7 linked regions of the Homo sapiens genome follow. The protein of the gene in region 1 purifies or fractionates together with the protein of each later gene. This does not show direct contact. Each region holds a gene or a part of one and is shown in the gene's direction. Other genes may lie near its edges. The genes, in order: OCIAD1, TNPO3, COX6C, USP34, PPP4R3A, EXOC3 and SDHB.

What was found.
Region 2: the proteins of OCIAD1 (region 1) and TNPO3 purify together in Homo sapiens (co-immunoprecipitation; 2 studies listed by BioGRID and IntAct, with this or other methods). This does not show direct contact.
Region 3: the proteins of OCIAD1 (region 1) and COX6C purify together in Homo sapiens (affinity purification with mass spectrometry; 2 studies listed by BioGRID and IntAct, with this or other methods). This does not show direct contact.
Region 4: the proteins of OCIAD1 (region 1) and USP34 purify together in Homo sapiens (co-immunoprecipitation; 2 studies listed by BioGRID and IntAct, with this or other methods). This does not show direct contact.
Region 5: the proteins of OCIAD1 (region 1) and PPP4R3A purify together in Homo sapiens (co-immunoprecipitation; 2 studies listed by BioGRID and IntAct, with this or other methods). This does not show direct contact.
Region 6: the proteins of OCIAD1 (region 1) and EXOC3 purify together in Homo sapiens (co-immunoprecipitation; 2 studies listed by BioGRID and IntAct, with this or other methods). This does not show direct contact.
Region 7: the proteins of OCIAD1 (region 1) and SDHB purify together in Homo sapiens (affinity purification with western blotting; 2 studies listed by BioGRID, with this or other methods). This does not show direct contact.

Annotation. Positions count from the first base shown.
Region 1 is NC_000004.12:48,837,588-48,841,087, forward strand, and holds part of OCIAD1 (OCIA domain-containing protein 1), read left to right. Parts: intron 1-3,500. UniProt on the Homo sapiens protein: Maintains stem cell potency. Increases STAT3 phosphorylation and controls ERK phosphorylation. May act as a scaffold, increasing STAT3 recruitment onto endosomes. Involved in integrin-mediated cancer cell adhesion and colony formation in ovarian cancer.
Region 2 is NC_000007.14:128,971,612-128,975,111, reverse strand, and holds part of TNPO3 (transportin-3), read left to right. Parts: intron 1-149; coding exon 150-244; intron 245-2,529; coding exon 2,530-2,686; intron 2,687-3,500. UniProt on the Homo sapiens protein: Importin, which transports target proteins into the nucleus. Specifically mediates the nuclear import of splicing factor serine/arginine (SR) proteins, such as RBM4, SFRS1 and SFRS2, by recognizing phosphorylated SR domains.
Region 3 is NC_000008.11:99,883,708-99,887,207, reverse strand, and holds part of COX6C (cytochrome c oxidase subunit 6C), read left to right. Parts: intron 1-3,500. UniProt on the Homo sapiens protein: Component of the cytochrome c oxidase, the last enzyme in the mitochondrial electron transport chain which drives oxidative phosphorylation.
Region 4 is NC_000002.12:61,212,588-61,216,087, reverse strand, and holds part of USP34 (ubiquitin carboxyl-terminal hydrolase 34), read left to right. Parts: intron 1-1,393; coding exon 1,394-2,028; intron 2,029-3,500. UniProt on the Homo sapiens protein: Ubiquitin hydrolase that can remove conjugated ubiquitin from AXIN1 and AXIN2, thereby acting as a regulator of Wnt signaling pathway.
Region 5 is NC_000014.9:91,475,811-91,479,310, reverse strand, and holds part of PPP4R3A (serine/threonine-protein phosphatase 4 regulatory subunit 3A), read left to right. Parts: intron 1-2,324; coding exon 2,325-2,402; intron 2,403-2,786; coding exon 2,787-2,903; intron 2,904-3,344; coding exon 3,345-3,500. UniProt on the Homo sapiens protein: Regulatory subunit of serine/threonine-protein phosphatase 4. May regulate the activity of PPP4C at centrosomal microtubule organizing centers.
Region 6 is NC_000005.10:446,176-449,675, forward strand, and holds part of EXOC3 (exocyst complex component 3), read left to right. Parts: 5' UTR 1-30; coding exon 31-174; intron 175-645; exon of another isoform or gene 646-1,033; intron 1,034-1,163; exon of another isoform or gene 1,164-1,217; intron 1,218-1,357; coding exon 1,358-1,577; intron 1,578-3,500. UniProt on the Homo sapiens protein: Component of the exocyst complex involved in the docking of exocytic vesicles with fusion sites on the plasma membrane.
Region 7 is NC_000001.11:17,018,222-17,020,627, reverse strand, and holds the end of SDHB (succinate dehydrogenase [ubiquinone] iron-sulfur subunit, mitochondrial isoform 1 precursor), read left to right. Parts: intron 1-1,669; coding exon 1,670-1,747; 3' UTR 1,748-1,906; downstream 1,907-2,406. UniProt on the Homo sapiens protein: Iron-sulfur protein (IP) subunit of the succinate dehydrogenase complex (mitochondrial respiratory chain complex II), responsible for transferring electrons from succinate to ubiquinone (coenzyme Q).

The DNA of each region.
Region 1 (3,500 bases):
GCCAGAATGGGAAGAATTTCTTAGAGAACTTGGCTGTATACTCCAGCAACAGTTCTTTTTTTTTTTTTTTTTTTTAAATCTTTGAAGATTATATAGAGTAGATAGGATAAAATGATCTATTTTTAAGTCTTGATGACACAGGATTAAGAAAAAGGCAAGTGTGATAGAGGGGATTTGGGATTATTGTAGTGTTGGGCTAACGGTTAAATAGATGCTAAGGTGTCCAGATTTATTTCTGGCTGATAAATGTATGCTGCTGCAGGTGTTTAACAATCTAAATAGCTGTGACAGGTTTATGCCAAAAGTACATTAAAGGGTAGTGAACAATGTCAGGATGCCCGTGTATACCAGACTCTTAATAGTGGGACATGTGGTATATGAACAGTACAAAGCTAAGTGATTTCTGTGCATTAAAACAGATAAATCACAGGTTGAAAAGACAAAAAGCGGCTGGGCTTGGTGGCTCACACCTGTAATCCCAGCACTTTGGGAGGCTGAGGCAGGCAGATCACCTGAGGTCAGGAGTTCGAGACCAGCCTGACCTATATGGTGAAACCCCGTCTCTACTAAGAATACAAAAATTAGCTGAGCATGGTGGCAGGTGCCTGTAATTCCAGCTACTCGAGAGGCTGAGACAGGAGAATCGCTTGAACCCGGGAGGCAGAGGTTGCAGCAAGCCAAGATCGTGCCACTGCACTCCAGCCTGGGCGACAGAGCGAGACTCCATCTCAAAAAAAAAAAAAAAGACAAAAAGCATGTGATAAGGACAGGCTGAAAGACAGCTTGTTAATTTTATACCATATCTACATTACTGAGAAATTACAGCAGCCAAAAAATTACTGTATTAATAGGTAGCATTTCACTCTCAAAACAGATAACCAAGGTGTTGTTGCATATTATAGCATCAAACATTGAAATGTAGAAGCTTGGTTGTAACCAGGTGATAGGAAGTTCAACGTATAATTATCAGAAGGATGATAATCATACATAGGAAATTTTGTACTTTAACATTTGTACTTTCGAATTAGATAGTCTATGCTGTATGTGACATTTATGTAAACAAATAATGGCATCTGTTACTTTGGAGAGTATCACCTTGGATTAGAAAAAGGTGATAAAAGCATTTACGAATTTATAAAAAAGCACTTACTAAGGTAATTTTTTATACATTTTTTAGGTCTGTTAAAATACTTATCCTCTTCTAAAATTAGACTTGTTGATCTAGGGACCATTCTCTTTCCTTAAGATAACTATGTTTCTATACTGACCTACATTCCATTAATCTGAAATATAACTATGAAGGCATCTTATTTCTAGGTGCTTAAAATCGTGACCCTATGCACTGACCTAAAATCACTATGTCTGTGCCCAAACACACAGGTAGTGAAGACCCTGTGCATATAGGGTCAGTTTATTGCATATTCATGTTAAAATAGTTCTCAAACTCCAGAATTACTAAAAAGATGTATCAGTTCATATTTGTATCAGCTGGAGTCTATGAATAATATTTCATATATGTGTACTACTAGTTTTCAAATGATACAGTATAAGAGTGATAAGAGTATGGGCCAGGCATGGTGGCTCACACCTGTAATCCCAGCATTTTGAGAGGCCGAGGTGGGTGGATCACTTGAGGTCAAGAGTTCAAGACCAGCCTGGCTAACATGGTGAAACCCTGTCTCTACTAAAAATACAAAAATTAGCCAGGTGTGGTGGCACATGCCTGTAGTCCCAGCTTCTTGGGAGGCTGAGGCAGGAGAATGGCTTGAACTCGGGAGGCAGAGGTTGCATTGAGTCAGGATTGTGACATTGCACTCCAGCCTGGGTGACAAAGCGAGACTTCATCTCAAAAAAAAAAAAAAAAGAGTATGGACTCTGAGGCCTGATTGGCTGGATTCAAATCCCAGCTCCACACACAGTAGCTGTGAGATTTTGGACAAGTTCCTGAGGTCTGTGCTATACTTTTCTTATCTATAAAATGGGGATAACTGCCTAGCTCATGAAATTATTATAGGGATTAATGCAATTTAATTAAGTGTTGGCTATCTTTATTAAATAGCTATTAGTGTTATTATGATTAATGAAATAAAAATTTTTATTGACTACAGTTAGGAATATAGAGTAGCTTTTTGTTACTGTGAGGGGAGAAGAGTTCAAATAATTGTAGGGATTCTTGTATATATTGAATATAGTTTGGGACTGTGGTAATAATGTGCACTAGGTTTTGGTCAGCAGTATTACTGATTTGCCTATAGAGACAGATTATTTAACAAAATAGATATTACATACTGTAGTGGAAAAGGCCACTGACTAGGGAGTCAGGAGACTTGGGTTCTGATCTCAGCATTACCACAAACTAACCAGCTGTGTTGCTTTGAGCAAATGACTTGTCTTTTCTGGATATTAGTGTACTCAGATTGGAATGAGGACTAGATAATCTCTGAAGCCTCTTTCAGTCTTACCATTGTCTTTTTCTGTGACATAAAGTAGAATACCTGAGTTGGAATGAGACCTTAGGTCTAATCCATTATTCCTTTATAGCATGAGAAGAAGCTATGCAAAGACATTGTGGTGAATGGCAGAACTAGTACTAGAATCTCCTCGAACAGACTATTACTCTGCATTAAATGGGGAAAGCATTATCCATTGTAGAAATGGCCAGCTAACTCATTGCCTTTTATTCTTATATGATTCTTCAGTGCTTCATGTTGCAATCCTTGAGTCAAGCTGGAGAAAAATGATTGCAAATTGTACTGGTGCTGTAATTAAAAGGGATTTGTCCTTTGCAAAACCTTAAATGATAAATGATAATGCATGAAGGCATTCTAACTAGCCAACATTAAAGAAACCATATTTCCAGCAAAGGTAAAATCTGTTAGTAAGTAGGATAGCATGAATTCAGACCTTAGCGTTTGTGCAATTTGTGTGTGATGGCAAAGTTAATGCCCTATTCCAAAGTGATGGATTTTAATCATGAAATCTGTAATAATTCAAATGTCTTAATTACTTTGGTTCTTAAATTGTCCATATATGGTTTAGACCAGAGTTGAACAAACTAGCCCATGGACCAAATCTGTTTTTGTATGCATGAGCTAAGAATTGTTTTTACATTTTTAAATGGTTAAGAGGCTGGGTGCAGTGGCTCACGCCTGTAATCCCAGCACTTTGGGAGGCTGAGGTGGGCTGATTACTTGAACCAAGGAGATCGAGACCAGCCTGGGCAACTTGGCGAAACCTCATCTCTACAAAAAAAAAAAAAAAAAAGAAAAAAGACAAAAAATTAGCCAGGCATGGCGGTGCATGCCTGTAGTCCCAACCACTTGGGAGGCTGAAGCAGGAGGATCATCTGAGCCGGCAGGTTGAGGCTGCAGTGAGATGAGATTGTACCACTGCATTCCAGCCTTGGTGATAGAGTGAGACTTTGTCTAAAAACATAAAATAAGATAAAATGGTTAAGAAATCAAAGGAAAAGAATATTTCATTACGTGTGAAATTACATG
Region 2 (3,500 bases), on another chromosome or scaffold:
GATCAGATTCTCATTACAATCTTTTTCTTTTCCCAGCTGTGCTTTTCTTCTTTGTTCCTTTTGTACTTATTGTAATAAATATTTGGCAAGTCTGAATGCTGTGGCATTTCTGAAAAAGCATTTCTTTTAAAATCACTGTTTTGTTTTAGGCACTGTGCATCCCCACCTTTCAGCTCCTAGAACAGCAGAATGGTCTCCAGAATCACCCTGACACTGTAGATGACCTGTTCCGGCTAGCCACCAGGTAAATCCTTCTGAAGAGCCCATTTCTTAATTGCTCATCCTATCACTGCTTAGTCTTGCCATCTGACCCTTGGTTGTTTTATTCTTGTAAAATGAAGTCACTGGAGTAAGTAGATTAATGATTCATAACCCAAAGGTAAATTGCAAGCTGATATATCCCCAGCAGTGACGCAGAGTATTGCGGGAAGCAAGGGATAAAGGAGCTGAGTTCCTGCCAGGAAGGAGGGCTCACACACAAGACAATGCAGTGTGCCTGGCAAAACACTTGACTAGATCATCTCTACAGTCCTCTGTAGGTTTTAACTGTTCGTGCTGTTGCGATTTCATGTTTCACCTCAACCTTCTCTTTGAGAAGCTTAGCATCCTTTAGATATAATCAGTTTCGGAATAAAGAATGTTTGGGATTTTAAGATGCCTTAGCAGTTATCTCATACTGTATTTCTCAGCTCTACTCACAGCCTACTTTATCAGTAGCACTGATAATATGATTGCCAAACTTCTGCTTGAATTCCTTAGTCCCTAACTAAGGAATTTGAACCAAAACTGTTACCATATCAGCATTAAAAAAAAAAAAAAAAGAAAAATCATTATTTTCGAAACAACAAAAGCCCAACTGTTATATCATTTACAAATGCAAAGTAATGTTGACTTGATTGTTTCATCTTAGGATTGATTTTTTTTCTTTTTTCTTTTTTGAGATGGACTCTCACTCTGTTGCCCAGGCTGGAGTGCAATGGCATGATCTCGGCTCACTGCAACCTCTGCCTCCTGGGTTCAAGTGATTCTCCTACCTCAGCCTCCCGAGTAGTTGGGATTACAGGTGCCCACCACCATGCCCAGCTAATTTTTGTATTTTTAGTAGAGACGGGGTTTTGCCATGTTGATCAGGCTGGTCTCAAACTCCTGGCCTCAGGTGATCCGCCCACCTTGGCCTCCCAAAGTCCTGGGATTACAGGCGTGAGCCACCGTACCTGGCAGGATTGAATATTGAACCCTTTTTTTTTGTTAGTTTTTGGATAGGTTAGAAAAACCCTTTTTTTTTCCTTTTCTTTTTTTTTTTTTTTCAGTTGATAGAATTGTTGGATGGGCTGTCACCCTCTGTTTTCTTTTTTTTTTTTTTTTTTTTTTTTTTTGAGACGGAGTCTCGCTCTGTCGCCCAGGCTGGAGTGCAGTGGCGTGATCTTGGCTCACTGCAAGCTCTGCCTCCTGGGTTCACGCCATTCTCCTGCCTCAGCCTCCCGAGTAGCTGGGACTACAGGCACCCGCCACCACACCCAGCTAATTTTTTGTATTTTTAGTAGAGACGGGGTTTCACTGTGTTAGCCAGGATGGTCTCGATCTCCTGACCTCGTGATCCACCCTCCTCGGCCTCCCAAAGTGCTGGGATTACAGGCCTGAGCCACCACGCCCGGCACACCCTCTGTTTTCTTAGGGTATGTATTCCTTGGAAAACTAGTCCCTAAAAATGTTCTTTATACAAATGATGAAACAAGTTTGGAGTATACTGTACCTTTTTCTGAAGAGATTCTCCCTGTATATTAAAGGAACTTAGAAACCTGATAGTAGTTTAAAGGAAAAAATAAACAAGCAAAACTACTTTCAAAATCCAGCAGCATTTCCCAAGCTTACCTGAACACACAACCTTTTCTTTGAGGGATTCCTGTTGACATCCTGGGAACTGGAATTCTGTGAACTTTAGTTTGGGAAATGCTGTTCTAGCATCTTTAGGACTTTTTAACCTAGGAGAGTTTCTACTTGTAGGTCCTTTTGACTGGTCTTTCTTGATTTATAAAATCTTAGTTGGAAATAGGATGTGGTGACACGTCTTTTAATATACTAATCTTAAGATATGGTCCTTTTTTTTTAAAGAGCAACTTTAGGTTCACTGCAAATTTGAGTGAAAAGTTGCTCCCATATACCCCTCCCTCCTAACACACACAGCCTTCCCCTCTATTAGCATCCCCCACCAGAGTAATACAAACAGTGACCCTATATGAACACATCATTATCACCCAAAGTCCATAGTTTACATTAGGCTTCACTCTTGGTGTACATTCTGTGGGTTTTGACAAATGTGTAATGACATGTATCCACTGTTATAGTATCATACAGAATACTTTCACTGCCAAAAAAAATCCTCTATGTTCTGTCTATTCATCCCTTCTTCCCTGAAACCCCCCACCAACCACTGATCTTTTTTACTGTCTTCATAGTTTTGCCCTTTTACCCTGGCTGCTTTTATAGCCTAATCTTGTCATTTATACCTAGTCTCACTTTCCACACCAGGTTTATTCAGCGTAGCCCTGTCACCTTGCTGCGGAGCCAAGTGGTCATCCCTATCTTACAGTGGGCCATTGCCTCTACTACCCTGGACCACCGGGATGCCAATTGTAGTGTCATGAGGTTTCTACGAGACCTCATTCATACAGGGGTAGCCAATGATGTAAGTATAAAAATGATACCATTTCTACTTAACAGCTTTTATCTCCTATCTCTTTGTCATTCCTTAGGAGAAAACCAGCATCCCAGTATTTCCTTACTTGATCTATATTGGTAGACATATATCATAGTGGATCATTCACTAGCCAAAATATCAACTAAGACACTTGTGCTGGGTGCTTTAGGCTATATAAAGCAGTCTAAAACTGTTCATGCTCCCAAATCATTTGGTGTCTAGTTGAAGAGAGAAACAAGTTTAAAGAGTTAAGTAACAACAAGATGCCAGTGTTTGGTGTTTTTCATTTGTTTTTGAAACAGGGTCTTGCTCTGTCGCCTAGGCTGGAGTACAGTGATGTGAATCTCAAGGGATCCTCAGCTACTGAGTAGCCAGGACTACAGACATTCAACACCATGCCTGGCTAGTTTTTATATTTTTTGTAGAGATGGCATTTCACCATGTTGCCCAGGTTGGTCTTGAACTCCTGGCCTCAAGTGATCCTCCCACCTTGGCCTCCAGTATTTGATTGTCAGATGAGTGATAAAAGTCATGATTGGTATGAGATCAGACGAGGGAAAGCTCTAGACCAAAAAGAGTTGGAATAACTTTATGGAAGGGGAGGGATTTAAATGAAGCCATGAATTAGAGGTAGAATTTTGATGGATTAGAGAGGCAGATAGTCATACTGCCTCTAAGCCAAGATCAGAGCAAGTCAGAATAGTACTAAGTTTGTTAGTAGACAACTAAGCAGTGGGAGTAGTAAAGTGCTTCACAGGAATTTCGAAGGTAGGTTTGATTAGATGTGGAGTAGAATTGTAGA
Region 3 (3,500 bases), on another chromosome or scaffold:
GTTGTGTGAGATACTCAGTGTTTTATTATAAGCTAGGCTTTGTGTTAGATGATTTTCTTCAGCTGTAGGCTAACATAAGTGTTCTGAGCACATTTAAGGTAGGGAAGGCTAAGCTATGATGTAAGTTAGGTGTATTAAATGCATTTTCAACTTAAGATATTTTAAACTTATGATGGTTTTATCAGAATGTAACCTGATGGTAAGTTAAGGAGCATCTATAATATAAAATTTGCCATCTTAACCATTTTTAATTGTACAGTTTAGTAGTGTTAAGTTCATTCACATTGTTGTGCAACCAGTCTCCAGAACTCGTCATCTTACAGAATTGAAACCCTATATCCATTAAGCAACCCATTCACACCTCCACTCAGACCCTGGCAGCCACTGTGTTACTTTCTAAGAATTTGGCTACCCCAGGCATCTCATAAGTAGAATCACACAGTATTTGTTTTCTTGTGACTGGCTTATTTCACTTAGCGTAGTGTACTCAAGGTTCATCCATGTTACAGCATGTGTCAGAATTTCCTTTCTTTTTAAAGCTGAATGATCTATTTTAGTTGTGTCACATTGTTATCCATTCATCCATCAGTAGATGCTTGGGTTGCTTCCACTTTTTGATTGTTGTGAGTGATGCTGTGAACCTAGGCATGCAAATATTCCTTCAAGGCCTTGCTATCAATTCTTTTGGGGTATATTCAAAAGTGGAATTCCTGGATCATATGATTTTTAATTTCTTAAGAAACTGCCATACCCTTTTCCATAGTGGCTGCACCATTTTACACTCTTTCCATCCTCCCCAACACTTGTTAATTTTTTTTTTAACAGGGTCTCCCTCTGTCACCCAGGCCGTAGTGCTGTAGTGCGATCATGGCTCACTGCAGCCTCAACCTCCCAGGCTCAAGGGATCTTCCTGCCTCAGCCTCCCAAGAAGCTGGCACTATAGGCATGTGCCACCACACCTGGCTAACTTCTTTATTTTTAGTAGAGACAGGGTTTCACCATATTACCTGGGCTGTGCTTGAATTCCTGGGCTCAGGCGATCCGTCCACCTTGGCCTCCCAAAGTGTTGGGATTACAGGCGTGAGCCACTGTGCCTGGCATAATTTTGGTATTTTTTGATAGTAGCCATCCTAATAGGTATGAGGTGGTATCATTGTGGTTTTGATTTGCATTTCCCTGATTATTTGTGTTCTTGAGCATCTTTTCATGTACTTATTGGCCATTTGTATGTTATCTTTGGAGAAATGTTTATTCAGTTCTGCTCATTTTCAAATTTGGTTTTTTGTTTATTGGTTGAGTTGTTCTGTATATATTCTGGATATTAACCCCTTATCAGATATGATTTGTAAATATTTTCTCCCATTTCATAGGTTGCCTTTTCACTCTGTTGTGTCCCTTGATGCACAGAAATTTTGATGTCGAATTTATTTTTATTTTTGTTCTGTGTGCTTTTAGTGTCATATTCAATAAATCATTGCCAAATCCAATGTCATGAAGTCTTTTTTATGTGTTCTTCTAAGACTTTTATAGTTTTAGCTCTTATGTTTAGATCTTTGATTCACTTGAATTTTTGTGTAGGGTGTAAAGATCCAACTGTATTCTTTTACATGTGGTATCCAGTTTTCCCGAAATCATTTAAGATTGTCCTCTTCCATGGAGTGGTCTTGGTACCTTGGTGAAATCATTTGACTCTAAATGCGAGAGTTTATTTCTGGGCTATTTCTTTAGTCTGTATGTCTGTCTTCGGGGCAGTACTACACTGTTTTGATTACAGTAGTCCGTTTTATCTAAGATATGTTTCAAGACCCCTCTAGTGGATTCTTGAAACCACAGATAGTACCAAACCCTGTATATATTATGTTGTTTTTCGTGTACGTACATACCTATGATGACGTTTAACTCATAAATTAGACATAGTAAGAGATGAGCAACAATAACAAAATAGAACAATTGTAGTGTATAGTAATAAAAGGTGAATGTGATCTCTCAATATCTTGCTGTACTGTACTCACCTGTTTTTGAACCACAGTTGACTGTGGGTAGAACTAAAGCGGTGGAAGGTTAAACCACAAATAAGGGATGACTGCTACACTGTAGCTTTGTAGTATGCTTTAAAATCAGTAAGTGTGAGTCCTCTAGCTTTGTTCTTTCTTTCACCCCACCCGGAGGGTGCTCTAGCTATTTGTGGTTCCTTAAGAGTCTGTGAATTTTAGGATGGATTTTTCTATTTCTGTAAAAATGCCATTGGGATTTTGATAGGGATTGCATTAAATCTGTAGATTACTTTGGTAGTATGGACATCGTAACAATATTAAGTATTCCAATCCATGAACACAGGATGTCTTTCCTCTTATTTGTATCTTTAATTTCTTTTAGCAGTAGTTTGCATCTTTAATTTCTTTTAGTGTTGCTACTCTCTTACTATGCCTAATTTATGAGTTAAGCTTTATTATAGGTATGTGTATATATAGGAAAAAACGTAGCTGTATAGGGTTTGGTACCATCCATAGTTTCAGTAATTCACTGGAAGGGTCTTGAAACATATCACCTTGGATAAAAGGAGACTACTATAATCAAAACAATGTGTCCAAGGACACACATTTCTTTCCGTACTTTTCCTTTATTTTATAGTGACATGTTTCAGTTTCCTTCTTACTTCCTTATGTGTATATTCTGTATTTTCTTTGTGGTTACCATGGGGATTGCATGAATGAGATTTGCTAATTTTTTTAGCAGTATACAGGTATATATCTGTTTCATCTAGGTCAGTGTTTAAGTCTTTCATATTCCTGATTAAATACATTCCTAAGTATTATTTTTGGTGCTATTATAAATAGAATTATTTTCTTAATTTCCTTTATTAGGCATTCCTTTATTTCCTTCATTGTTGGTGTGTAGAAAGAGCTGATTTTTGTATCCTCCAACTTAGTAGAATTCATGTATTCTGACACTTGTGTGTTAGAAATCTTTAGGGTTTGCTGGAGGTAAGATTATATGATCTGTAAACAGATAGTTTTACTTACTCCTTTCCTTTTTGGATGTTGCTTATTCCTTCTTGCCTCATTGCTCTGGCTAGGACTTCCAGTACTACAATGAATAGAAGTGGCAAGAGCGGGCATCCTTGTCTGGTTCTAGGTATTAGAGGAAAAGCTTTCACGTTTTCCATGTTCAGTATACTAGACTTGTCCTTTTTGGCCATTGTTGGGTTGAAGTACATTCCTTCTGTTGATAGTTTTGATCATGAAAGGATGTTGAATTTTGTCAAGTACTTTTTCTGCATTTTTTGAGATGTGTTTTTTATCCTTCATTCTGTCAGTGTGGTATGTCACATCTATTGATTTGCATATGTTGAACTATCCTTGCATCCTAGGGATAAATCCCACTTAATCATAGTACATGATTCTTTTAATGCGATGTCAAATCTGGTTTGCTAGTGTTTTGTTGACGATTTTTGCATCTGTGTTAAAGGATTTGGCCTATAGTTTTCTCGTGTGTTTGTC
Region 4 (3,500 bases), on another chromosome or scaffold:
TTTTAGAAACCCTAACTTTGTTTGCTTTGACAATACAATGGAAATTATCAAGTTATAGTTAGAATAGGGGGAGACAAATAATGGTTGTCCTGAAAAGAACCCAAACTCAGACATTAGAGAGTCTTGAGGAGGTTCCATAGTGAATGTTAGGAGCATTATTAGCCTGTGAATCTGATTGGCTGGATTTGAATCCCAGCTCTGGCCACTAGCTGTGTAAGCTGAGATAGTCCCATTGTTGTAAGCCTGAGTGAAAGTGGGGATAATAAATGCAATGCCTGCCACATAAAGTTATGACGTCAAATAGTATACATTTGGTAAAGGCTCACAATTCTTATTATAGTTATTACTATTATTGTTTTACCATTATCATTATCATCATCATTGTTTCTCAAGGCAAAATCTAGCCTCCACCTCTTTATCTGTGTGACCTTGGTCTTTGCTTCTCCAAGATTCAGATTTTCCAGAGCACTGTTACCTCCATCCAGGGTCATTGTGAGGATTAAATGAGAAGTTTATACAGCACCTAGGTCAATGCTTTGTTGATAGTAACTGCTTTTACAGGTTAGCGCAACTAATAAGTCACTAACTCCTCAGCATTATAACATAGGCTTAATAAGTTTAACACCAAGTTCTTTCCTTGGGTGTAAGTTTAGCCTTAAAAGACTTCTAAAGATTTTCCAAAGTTAATGTTCTGTAATTAGCATATATGTAATCAAATAGGACTTTTATGTATATCTCATTCTTTCTTTATAACTTAAATATATATTATCTGGTTACAATTTAACACCCAGTTCTTTCCTTTGGTGTAAGGTTAGCCTTAGAAGACTTTTAAAGATTTTCCAAAGTTAATGTTCTATAATTAGCATATATGTAATCTTATATATTGAACTTTTATGTATATCTATTTCTTTCTTTATAACAAGTATATTTTACCATATCTGTATGTTATTACAAAGTAAATTATCATTATTTTTCAATTAAGAAGAAAACTAAGACTGTAGAACATTGAATGATTTGACCTCCTCAGGTACCTTTTGGTAGGTCTTCTGACTGCAAATGCTGGGTTCCCTCTGTTAAATCATACTACTTCCTGAGAAGAAATAAAAGATAAAGTGGGAAAATTCTGCATCTTAGGCAAGCTAAAGAAAAGTGGTTTAAAAATTATTGCCACTTCAAAAATAACAATGGCAGAATAGAAGGTATCTATTTTTATCACCTCTTGGGATCTTTTTGTGGGGCCAAGGGGAAAGCAGAAAGATACTAAAAGAGATGTTCATGTCCCTTTTTATTCATTTTAATTATTAAAGGGAACAGTGGCTTTGTGATTAATGACTGCTGTTCAGTCTATTTTATATCTTACAAGGATCTGACAGTTTTGTTTTACATTTTATAGCTGCAGCTTATCTTCTGGTGTCCCTTATACCAAGCAATTCATTCCGTCAGATGTTCCGGTCAACAAGGTCTTTGCACATCCCAACCCGTGACCTTCCACTCAGTCCAGACACAACAGTAGTCCTACATCAGGTCTACAACGTGCTCCTTGGTTTGCTCTCAAGAGCCAAACTTTATGTTGATGCTGCTGTTCATGGCACTACAAAGCTAGTGCCCTATTTTAGCTTTATGACTTACTGTTTAATTTCCAAAACTGAGAAGCTGATGTTTTCCACATATTTCATGGATTTGTGGAACCTTTTCCAGCCTAAACTTTCTGAGCCAGCAATAGCTACAAATCACAATAAACAGGCTTTGCTTTCATTTTGGTACAATGTCTGTGCTGACTGTCCAGAGAATATCCGCCTTATTGTTCAGAACCCAGTGGTAACCAAGAACATTGCCTTCAATTACATCCTTGCTGACCATGATGATCAGGATGTGGTGCTTTTTAACCGTGGGATGCTGCCAGCGTACTATGGCATTCTGAGGCTCTGCTGTGAGCAGTCTCCTGCATTCACACGACAACTGGCTTCTCACCAGAACATCCAGTGGGCCTTTAAGAATCTTACACCACATGCCAGCCAATACCCTGGAGTGAGTAAAATTGATACTCTTTTATCTGTATCCTCAAATAGATTGGAAATACCTGTTTTTCCCCTGGTGGGAAGTGGTGGCAGAATATAGAATAGTCTCACCATTCTTTCTTAAGAACTTAATGTGTATTTGTTTTCTTAAATACATATATAAAATGCTGTGTTGTTATAAAATTGATAACTGTGTAGATAACTTTTCTTAGGGTGAAGTTAAAGTTGCATATCCAGTAAAACTTACCTGTTTTTTAATTTGTGGTTTTGTAAATGTATTCTTCATGTGTGCCTAATGAAAAAAGCCAGCTTCATGGTACAGTTTTAAGGAATTGAGTACTTTGCTATTTAAAAATCAGATACTTAGCAAAATCTACATGCTGTGGTAAACTGTGAGCTAGACAATTTTATATCTAAAACTAGTAGTATTCCGCAGTATTTTTTCTCAAGCTGCATCCAAACAAATGAAATGCTTAAGAGATCAATCGAGATACATATATATGCAGTCTAAATTGGGTCCCTTTTACTCTGCACACTTACTTGTAGGTTTTATATTAAGTTTCCTCCCCTCGATGTAAAGCTGTCAAACCTGGTTAATAACTTTTCACTGTTGCCTCTTATTCTCTGTTGTAAACTGTACTTTAAAGACAGACCGTCCTTTATAGACGGTCTTTTTTTTTCTAGATGGTGTAATGAGTTGTATAGAATCTCACACCTGGGAAGAATAACCTAATTTCTAGTCAGAGAAAATTAGAATCCCAGGCCGGCATAGTGGCTCACACCTGTAATTTCAGCACTTTGGAGGCAGAGGCGGATCACTCGAGCCCAGCAGTTCAAGACCAGCCTGGGCAACATGGCAAAACTCCATCTCTACAAAAAATACAAAATTAGCTGGGAGTAGTGGTGTGCACCTATAGTCGCAGCTGCTTGGGAGGCTGAGGTGGGAGGATCGCTTGAGCCCAGGAGGTTGAGGCTGCATTGAGACATTGTACTGCACCCTGGGCAACAAAGCAAGACTCTGTCTCAAAAGAAAAAATCAGAATCCCTACAATGCAGGAAAGAGAGTGAGTGTACAAGTACCAAGAAATTGAAAACCAATGCCATAAGAATACAAAATATCAATCTTTCTGACTTCAAAGGGGTCGGGATAGGATTTATTAAGTTTCAGTAAATTTGTCTCTATCATATTCACATAAATAATATTTGATCTAGTTACTAGATGTGATGTCCAGAATTAAATATACTTTGACAAGTACTAGATGAGTTAGAATTTATCCCTCCATGTTATTTATTGCCCTTGACATCAGTGAAATGTAATGTCTTTTATTGTAGAATGTCCTTATCTATTAGAAATTTTCATGAAAATGGTACTTAAGTCAGTTTTTTGCTTTGAAAAATAAGAAGCTGGGGGTTTCAGTTCATTGACAAGTATGTGTTAGAAGAGCAGTCCTCTCCTGACATGTGCATATGAGTCTATAAAAT
Region 5 (3,500 bases), on another chromosome or scaffold:
CACACACACACACACACGTTGTTTTTTATTCTTTGATGCCTGTGGTATTGTAAGAATAATAGGTCTTTGGGAGACTGAGGTGGGTGGATCACTTGAGGTCGGGAGTTCGAGACCAGCCTGACCAACATGGCAAAACCTCGTCTCTACTAAAACTACAAAAATTAGCCAGGCGTGATGGTGGACACCTGTAATCCCAGCTGCTCAGGAGAATGAGGCAGGAGAATCGCTTGAATCCAGGAGGCAGAGGCACATGCCTGTAATCCCAGTTACTCCAGAGGCTGAGACAGGAGAATCATTTGCACCTGGTAGGCAGAGGTTGCATTGAGCCAAGGTCGCACCGCTGCAGATAAGTGTAATATGACTTGGAAGATCTTTTAAGACTTTACCTCAGGTGTATAAGTAAAATTTATTTGAAACCTGAATTTGTTAAGTATAGAAAGGAAGACAATAAATGTAGTAAGAGCTGCCTGGTAGCACACATTACATATAAAGCAGTATGTTTAATCATGTCTGTTCCTGTTTAGAAAATTTTGTATTTCTAAAATATTAGCCAGTGATAGGCAAAAAAAGGAAAAGTATGAACTAAAATACTGAGTTCTCCTGATCCTTTTCTTTAGCTCCATATGGTTCTGTTTTTGTTATGTGGGGATTTGTCACTTCTGTGTTTTCTTGGTCTTCATACATGTAAAATGCCAGTTTTATTCATTAAGTATGAATAATTTCAAGTTGTTAAATCTTTGCTTCCCTGTAATGTGCTTTGTAAAATACTGGCTGCCAATATGTCTGTTTCTCTTGATGCTGGACACTTCTATCCAAAGTGCTGCTGTGAAGGCTGTAGCATTTTACAAATGTTTTGGCAAGAAGTGATTGAGGTACAGTTTAATGCAGGTTCCTGCCCACTTTGTATAGCCCCATGCACACAAAATAAATATCACACCCTCTTAACATTGACTGCTTCCTTTGTAGTACCATAAACATTCTTATTTTCTCTATTTCTGTACCCCCAACTGCAGCAGTTCAGAGAATGTCTTTTTTAACCATTTGATACCCATTTGGTAGAATATAGTATATTGGAGATGTGTCTTGAAATTGGATGCCATTTGGGTAGCAAACATGGTCAAGATCATATTAATGAGGTATGACCTATTTGTTCATTTTAGAAAAAGTAAAGGTGAGAATAACCAAACTAACTTAGTGCCACAGAAGATTTTTCTGGAGCACTCACAACAGTGAATGTGGAGCCAGTAATCTAGTGGGAGCTTGTATATACATCCATGTGTATGTGTATTTAGAGTGAGGCATGTCTAGGGCTTAAGTGGTATTGAATCTACTTCCACTAGCTGAGGTAGTAATTAAAATCTTGGTCGAGCATGGTGGTTCATGTGCGTAATCCCAGCACTTCAGGAGGCCCAGGCCAGTGGATTGCTTGAGGCCACGAGTTCAAGACCAGACTGGCCAACATGACAAAACCCCATCTCTGCTACAAGTACAAAAATTAGCTGGGTGTAGTGGTGTGTGCCTGTAGTCCCAGCTGCTAAGGAGACTGAGACAGGAGAATTGCTTTAACCTGGGAGGCGGAGGTTGCAGTGAGCCGAGATGGCACCACTGTGCTCTACCTGGGTGACAGAGCAAGACTCTGTCTCAAAAAGCAAAACAAAACAAAAGCCAAGATCTTGATGAAAAAATAGTGATGAGAAACATTGACCGGACAATCATGAAGGCTCTGCCACCTTAATTGGGCTTGGGTAAATTTTAAAATCCAAGTCTCAATTATAAAATGAGGAAGTAAAACAAAAAGTTCTAAATTTTGCTTTTTAAATAATTGAGTCATTCTCTGTATCTTTAAAACACTAAAGTAGCTTTGTCTTCATTTTCATTCTCATTTGAGAGGTTGTAGAACTACCTTTTAAAAGTTAATAAGGTTATAAAACCTATGAAAGTGAGGGGTCAGCAAGTGTTGGTCCTGCTATTTTTGTAAGTAATATTTTATTGAAATACAGCCATATCCATTCATTTCCAGTTGTCTGTGACTACTTTCATATTACTGGAGCAGGGTTGAGTACTCGTAGTAGAGATCACATGGGCCGCAAAGCTCAAAATATTTACTACCTGGCCTTTATATAGGCTTAGAAAATAGAGCCTTGACAAAATTTTATACTTTAATAGTGTGGTTTTTCCTTCTGTTAAAAAAAAAAAAAAAGACAGCATTGCCAATACCACCTTTCCTTTTTATAGTTATTGCTGTGTATATTAAAGCATTCCTGAAATTATATTTTAGGACAATCTTAGCATTAACATAATTGCATTTGTCCTTTGTTTCACAGGAAGATGAAAAATTTCTGACAGATTTGTTTGCACAACTAACAGATGAAGCAACAGATGAGGAAAAAAGACAGGAATTGGTAAGAAATTAGATACTATGAAAGGCATAAAAATAAAACAACTGGCCGGGCTTGGTGGCTCACGCCTGTAAATCCCAGCACTTTGGGAGGCCGAGGTGGGTGGATCACGAGGTCAGAAGTTTGAGACCAGCCTGGCGAACATGGCGAAACCCCATCTCTACTAAAAAGTACAAAAATTAGCCAAGCATGGTGGCGGGCACCTGTAATCCTAGCTACTCAGAAGGCTGAGGCAGGAGAATCGCTTGAACTCGGGAGGTGGAGGTTGCAGTGAGCCAAGATCGTGCCATTGCACTCCAGCGTCGGCAACAAGAGCAAGACTCCGTCTCAATAAATAAATAAATAAAATAAACTTTTTATATCACTTATCCTTTTTTCTAATTTCAGGTTAACTTTTTAAAAGAATTTTGTGCGTTTTCCCAAACGCTACAGCCTCAAAACAGAGATGCTTTTTTCAAGACTTTGTCAAACATGGGCATATTACCAGCTTTAGAAGTCATCCTTGTAAGTTTTGTGTCTCCTCATTTTTAATTACCATTTTTTAATCCCAAAATTAATATTTTTAATGCTACATGCAAATATTCTATTATAGCCAATATTTGAAATTAGCTGCGTAGTTCATTAAGTTAAAGAAGCTGTAAAATTCCAATATTAGACAGTTTTCACACAGTATTGAAAGAATGCAGTAAAGGAATTTCCCATAATTTAATGATAGTTTGTCAGCTTTGCAGCTTATTAGCTGAAATGTTAAAATAGGCAAACAAATAAATGATTTAGAAAGTATAATTTTATCCGTACAATAAGAGTTTTATATGCAGAAGAATTTCTTTGACCTTTCTTTTACATTGAAGTTTTTTCATATGTTTTGTTAGGTTTGGATATTTACATAGCTATAGGTTCCGTATTTTTATAAATACAGGAAAAATAAATGTTTTTTGTCTGCAGGGCATGGATGATACACAGGTGCGAAGTGCTGCTACTGATATATTCTCATACTTGGTTGAATATAATCCATCCATGGTACGAGAGTTTGTCATGCAGGAGGCACAACAGAATGATGATGTAAGTAAGAAGTTAACAGAGCAAAAAATAACCAGCAAG
Region 6 (3,500 bases), on another chromosome or scaffold:
CAGTGTGAGGATTCCACCAGCTTTTTCACCATGAAGGAGACAGACCGGGAGGCCGTTGCGACAGCAGTGCAAAGGGTTGCTGGGATGCTCCAGCGCCCGGACCAGCTGGACAAGGTGGAGCAGTATCGCAGGAGAGAAGCGCGGAAGAAGGCCTCCGTGGAGGCCAGATTGAAGGTGAGGCCACCTGCCCCACTCCCAGGATCTGTCTTGGGCTTCAGGTTCTTGCTTGACATCACCATGATGATTTTGCTAAACTAGCCTTTATGGTAATGTGCAAGGAGGCAGAGCTGGACTTTCTTGAGCAGTTACTTTCAGCAGTGTATTACCACTCAGTAGCTTTGCTTAGAAGACAGTGGGAATGGTGAAAACACCAAAGGAACAAGCTTTTAAACACCCTGAGGCCGGGTGCGGTGACTCATGCCTGTAATCCCAGCACCTCGGGGAGGCCGAGGCAGGCGGATCACCTGAGGTCAGGAGTTCAAGACCAGCCTGGTCAACATGGTGAAACCCTGTCTCTATGAAAATACAAAAATTAGCCAGGCATGATGGTTGACGCCTGTAATCCCAGCTACTTGGGAGGCTGAGGCAAGAGAATCGCTTGAACCCAGGAGGCAGAGGTTGCGGTGAGCCGAGATGGTGCCATTGCATTCCAGCCTGGGCAACAGAGTGAGACTCTGTCTCAAAAAGAAAAAAAAAACACAGAAACAAAAACAACACCCTGAAAGTGTCTATTAAGTTTTTAAACAATACTGGAGGAAGGAGAAGTAGTCTTATTTAAAGCTCTTCTACAGAGCACCACTAGAGGGCATTTTGTTCAGATTGTTTTAACTCACATTTGACAGAGAGCGGATCTGAAGCTCAGGTGCCGATTCTGTCCTGTGGGTCAGCCGTCCTGGGGCCAAGTGTGGTGCTGGCTGAACAGCAGGAACTCCCCCACCCCAAGCCAGTGAAGTCCTGACCGTTCTCTCTGCCTAGACAAGACCTTTTAGGAACCTAGGATGCCTGGGAGAGCATGGGTGACATCCTTCTGAAGGTACCGTAGCAGGCCACGGCCCAGGGCAGACCCGTGGTAGTGTCCAGGATCACCAGGTGTGAGGCTAGATGAGGAGTGTCCTGACCTTTTCTCATCAAGGCTTTAAAATGCATCATTGTTCTGTTCCCAGGCAGCAATGAAGAAAAAGGTACACTGTGAATCAATTAAATCCTTGTTGATTTTATTTTCTTTTCTGGGTATTGACTGTTTCCTGCTACTCAGTGGCTCTTTCCTGAACTTGACCCTCCTGGGGAAGATTTGTTCTTCAGGAGGCAGCGCATGGCTATCATTGGCTCTGCTCACCCGTGTGGCGTCTCTCTTTAGGCCGCCATCCAGTCACAGTTGGACGGGGTGCGCACAGGCCTCAGCCAGCTCCACAACGCCCTGAATGACGTCAAAGACATCCAGCAGTCGCTGGCAGACGTCAGCAAGGACTGGAGGCAGAGCATCAACACCATTGAGAGCCTCAAGGACGTCAAAGACGCCGTGGTGCAGCACAGCCAGCTCGCCGCAGCCGTGGAGAACCTCAAGAACATCTTCTCAGGTACCAGCCAGACGCCGAGGCACTTGCCCCCACTCACGCTGTCTTTGCATGACTCACTGAGTGCTCTGTGTGCAGTGTGCTTTGCAGCCCGCACTGTAGACCTGTAGACGGTAAGTGTGATTCTTGTCTGCTCAGCGTCTTTTTTTGAACGTGGATGGAAGTGATCAGCTGAGCATGTAAAGGCTAGGAGAAGGCTTGTAGTTCAGTGTCAGGACAGAGGCCCAGAAGCGGGCTGCCCAGCAAATGCAGTGTGGAGGGATTCCCTGGCTGAGTGTCGTTCCCTTGCTTGCGATGTGGCTGTTAGACTCTGTGAGTGCAGAAGAATGAAGACGCCGTGGCCCATGCTTAAAAGGAGCTGCAGGAGAAGCCACCCTGTGCATGGGACAGAGCAAGCAGATCCCAGAGCAGAAGGGTTGAGGCGAGCAGCAGCTCCCAGGCAGGAGGAGAAGCGTGTGTGCACAGGCCAGGGCAGAGGCGGGGCTGAGCGCCGTGGGGGAGTGACCCTTTCAGTCTTCTCCCTGAATGCCTCAGTTAGAAGGATGCCAAGGGCCCTGTAACCTGTCCCTGAACGGTGCCAGCTGGCCCTGGGTGGTGGCTCCCAGCATTTGTGTTCACAGTCTCCTCCTGCTTGCTGTGACAGGAGCTGCTTCCACAGCCTCATCCCTCCCCTTGGTCCCCGCTCTGTGTCAAGGTCAGCAGCATCCTTCCAGTCCCCAACTCAGAAGCCTTGGCAGGGTCTGATTCCTTCCCTTTCTTTGTTCCTGTCTCTGGCCTCTTGGCAAGTTCTTCCTGTTCCTCTACCAGACGTCTCTGCCCTGATGTCTGTATGACACTTCCCCATCCCCAGCCGTCACGTGCCCCAGCTCACCCTTCACAGTGGCTGTGCTGCATCATCTGTGACGCTGCTCGGCTCCTGAGGCCACGTGTGAATTGGCGCGGTTCTCCCCAGCTGCCCACAGCGCACCTTGGTAATCCGTGTCCCGTCCACCCTGTCCTCTCTGCCCTCCTCTCGTGCTTGCGGCTGCAGCATTGCCGAGCACCTTGTCCCGTTGCTTTGTGTGTGCCCTTCTTCCAGGGCATGATCCGTAGGGTCACATGTGTGGCTGCAGTCCGTGTCTCTTTGTGCATGCCCAACACGAACGCCACTGTGCTGCCAACTCAGAAAGCAGCTCTTCTTGGTGACTGTGGGCCGCCTGGAACAGGAATAAAGTCCTCTCGACGGAGTCTCCTTGGTGATGCTCAGCTGGCAGCTTTCTAGTTAATTTCCTCTTATTTCGTATTGGCTGGCTACATTTCCTTCCGGTCTTTTAAACTAATGCCTGATGACCAAAAAGGTGCATTACTGGAATTAGTTTATCCACAGCAGTTGAAAATAATTTCCTTTCCTTGGTGAACAAATGAGCCTGCGTGGTATGCATGTTTTTTGTTACGGATAAATTTTCATTGAGAAGATTGGTTTGGTTGCCTTCAGACTTGTCTCATTGCCTATAACTCAGCAATGCTGTGTACACAGCTCCCCTCCCCCATTTTTTCTTCTTCTAAAATGCATATGTACAGTTTGCCGTCTTAACCATTTTTAAGTGTACAGTTGGGGACTATTAAGAACATTCATATTGTTGTGCAACCATTGCCACATCCGTCTTCAGAACTCTTTTCATCTTGCAGACATGAAAATCTGTACCCATTAAACACTGACTTCGCACCCTCTGCCCCAGCTCCTGGTCACCACCATTCTGCCTTCTGTCTCTGTGAATTGGATGACTCTGAAGACCTCATAGAAGTGGCATCACACATTATCTGTCTTTCTGTGACATGCTTATTTCACTCAGCATGATGTCCTCAGGGGTCTTCTATGCTGTGGTATTGTAGAATTTCCTTCACTTTTAAGGCTGAATAATATTCCATTGTATGGATGGACCACAT
Region 7 (2,406 bases), on another chromosome or scaffold:
GCATCTTCAGTGGTGGGGCCTGGCTGTGTGTTTCTTCAGAAGCTCTGCGAGTGACTCTAAGGTGCATTCCTGGTCACAAACCTGTGCATGGAGGGGATGGGTGCAGCAGACAACTGAGACAGCCAAGAACAGGTTCTCTGTGCCTTGCCCTCCCTTCTGTAAAACAGGGCTGGAAGTTGGGACTGAGACATAGACATAGGCCGATCATGAAACTGGAAGGGACTTGAAAACCATCAAGTTTAATCCCCTTATACAGATGGGGAAATTGAGCCCCAGGTGGGGAGGGGAGTGACTCGCCCCAGATCACTGTCAGGTCAGTGGGAAGGTAGGACTAGAGTTAGGCCGTCTGCCTCCCCATCCAGTGCTCTTTCTTCCTGCATGGATTGGGTATGTACCAACCTTCTAAGTCTAAACACCCTTACTGACCCTGTGGGGACCGGAAATACACAGGTAGATCCAGATTCAGAAGGATATACAGTGAAAATTCTCCCTCCCACTCCACCCAGCCACCTCCCTAGAAGTCAGATTCTTGTGTGAACTTCAGAGGTGTTTTATGCTGCACACAAATGCATATGTGTCCTCTTCTGTCTTTCTTATATCACATTTATCTGTATTTTTTCACCCACTATATTTTGGAGATTATCCCATGTTGGTATATGAAGAGTGTCTTTTTGACCAGCCTGGACAACATAGTGAGATCCCATCTCTACAAACAAAATTTTTTTTAATTAGCCAGGTGTGGTGGCACGCACCTGTAGTTTCAGTTACTTGAGAGGCTGAGGCCGGAGGATCACTTGAGCCAGGTGTTCCAGGCCACAGTGAACTATGATCACACTTCAGCCTGGATGACAGAGCAAGACCCTGTCAAAAAAATATATATTTTTTCTTTCTCTTCTTCTCTCAAGATCTCTTTTCTTTCTTTCCTTTTCTTCTTTCTTTCCACAACACTTTTTTAGGGGGGTAGACTTATCCTTCTAAAATGAGGGGAACCTTCACTAACGTCAGATGAGTACTTGTCTCATTTTACCAAGTACTTGCTTGGTAAAAGCAAGTACTTGGTAAAGTACTTCCTACTTTCTACTTCAATGAAGCTGGCATTCAGTGGGTTTAATTATTGTGCCTCCTGCAAAGCAGATGTTAACAGCTGTAGGGGCAAACTGCAGCTAATACCAATGGTATTGGCCAGTTGAAATCATCATGGTTTTACAAAGGGTTAATAGAGAGGGTAGTTTCTTCCACATACTTTTGAGAGCTGGTATATGCTGATTTCTGCTGCTGCCTATTTAATAATGATGATGTAAAAGATTTAGAGATGTCTGGCTGATTTTGACATTGGCCTGTAGTCCTAGAAGAGACACTACCCTGAGTGTCTTTGAGCAGTCAGAGAGTGCACCTCTGCCCTGGGCCTGTTTACCTGTTAGAGTGAGCCACACAAGAAGGAATTCAACGTGGCAGAGCTCTTGCCAGAGGGAGCTGACCATCTTCAAATGTTAAAAAAGGTAGACAGAAGAGAGCCCTTAGCCCAACCCCTATGGTTTTGAGGGACTTGATTTGCATTCACCTTGCTTGGACACTGAACCAGCTGAGGAAGGAGTTTCACCCAAGATTGTGGGTTTTCCCTTTCAGTTTCAGTTATCATTTGTTATTGATTCTTTTCTCTTTTTTCAAGGGTCTGAATCCAGGGAAAGCTATTGCAGAGATCAAGAAAATGATGGCAACCTATAAGGAGAAGAAAGCTTCAGTTTAACTGTTTCCATGCTAAACATGATTTATAACCAGCTCAGAGCTGAACATAATTTATATCTAATTTGAGTTCCTTTAAAGATCTTGGTTTTCCATGAATACAGCATGTATAATAAAAATTTTAAGAAATAAATGTTATTCTACTTTATTAACAAAAAAAAAAGAACCTGTTCCTTTACTTGCCGCAGGGGAATGTGAAGGTGCCAGGAGTCCTTGTCCTTGGAGAGATGGACAGGGCTTCAGAGCTGAGCGGGGGTGGGGGTACCCTAGCTGGAAGGAGGTGATGAGCCGTGGAACTGACATCAGCAGGGCCTGCAGCTTGTTCCCAGCTTTGCCACTCACCAGCTAGACAACCTTGGACAAGTTCCTTCACCTCTTTGCTGCTCCATTCGCCCATCTGTAAGATGGGATCCATAATTGTGCCTACTTCATTCATCTGGTATGAGAATGCCTGGCACTTATTCTGAACACTCAGTTAGTGTTAGTGTTCTGTATCTTCCCAGTTTCTATAGTTTTCAGTACCAGAATTACTGAAAACCAAATCTTGGTAAGTCTTTGGATACGTCGGTGAGGCCAGGTTTGAGATTCCTCCAGCACAGAGCAATGACCCTGGTCAGTTGTGAATCCAGTTAGTTCCACAAATGACCTCGTGGGGCCTCTCAC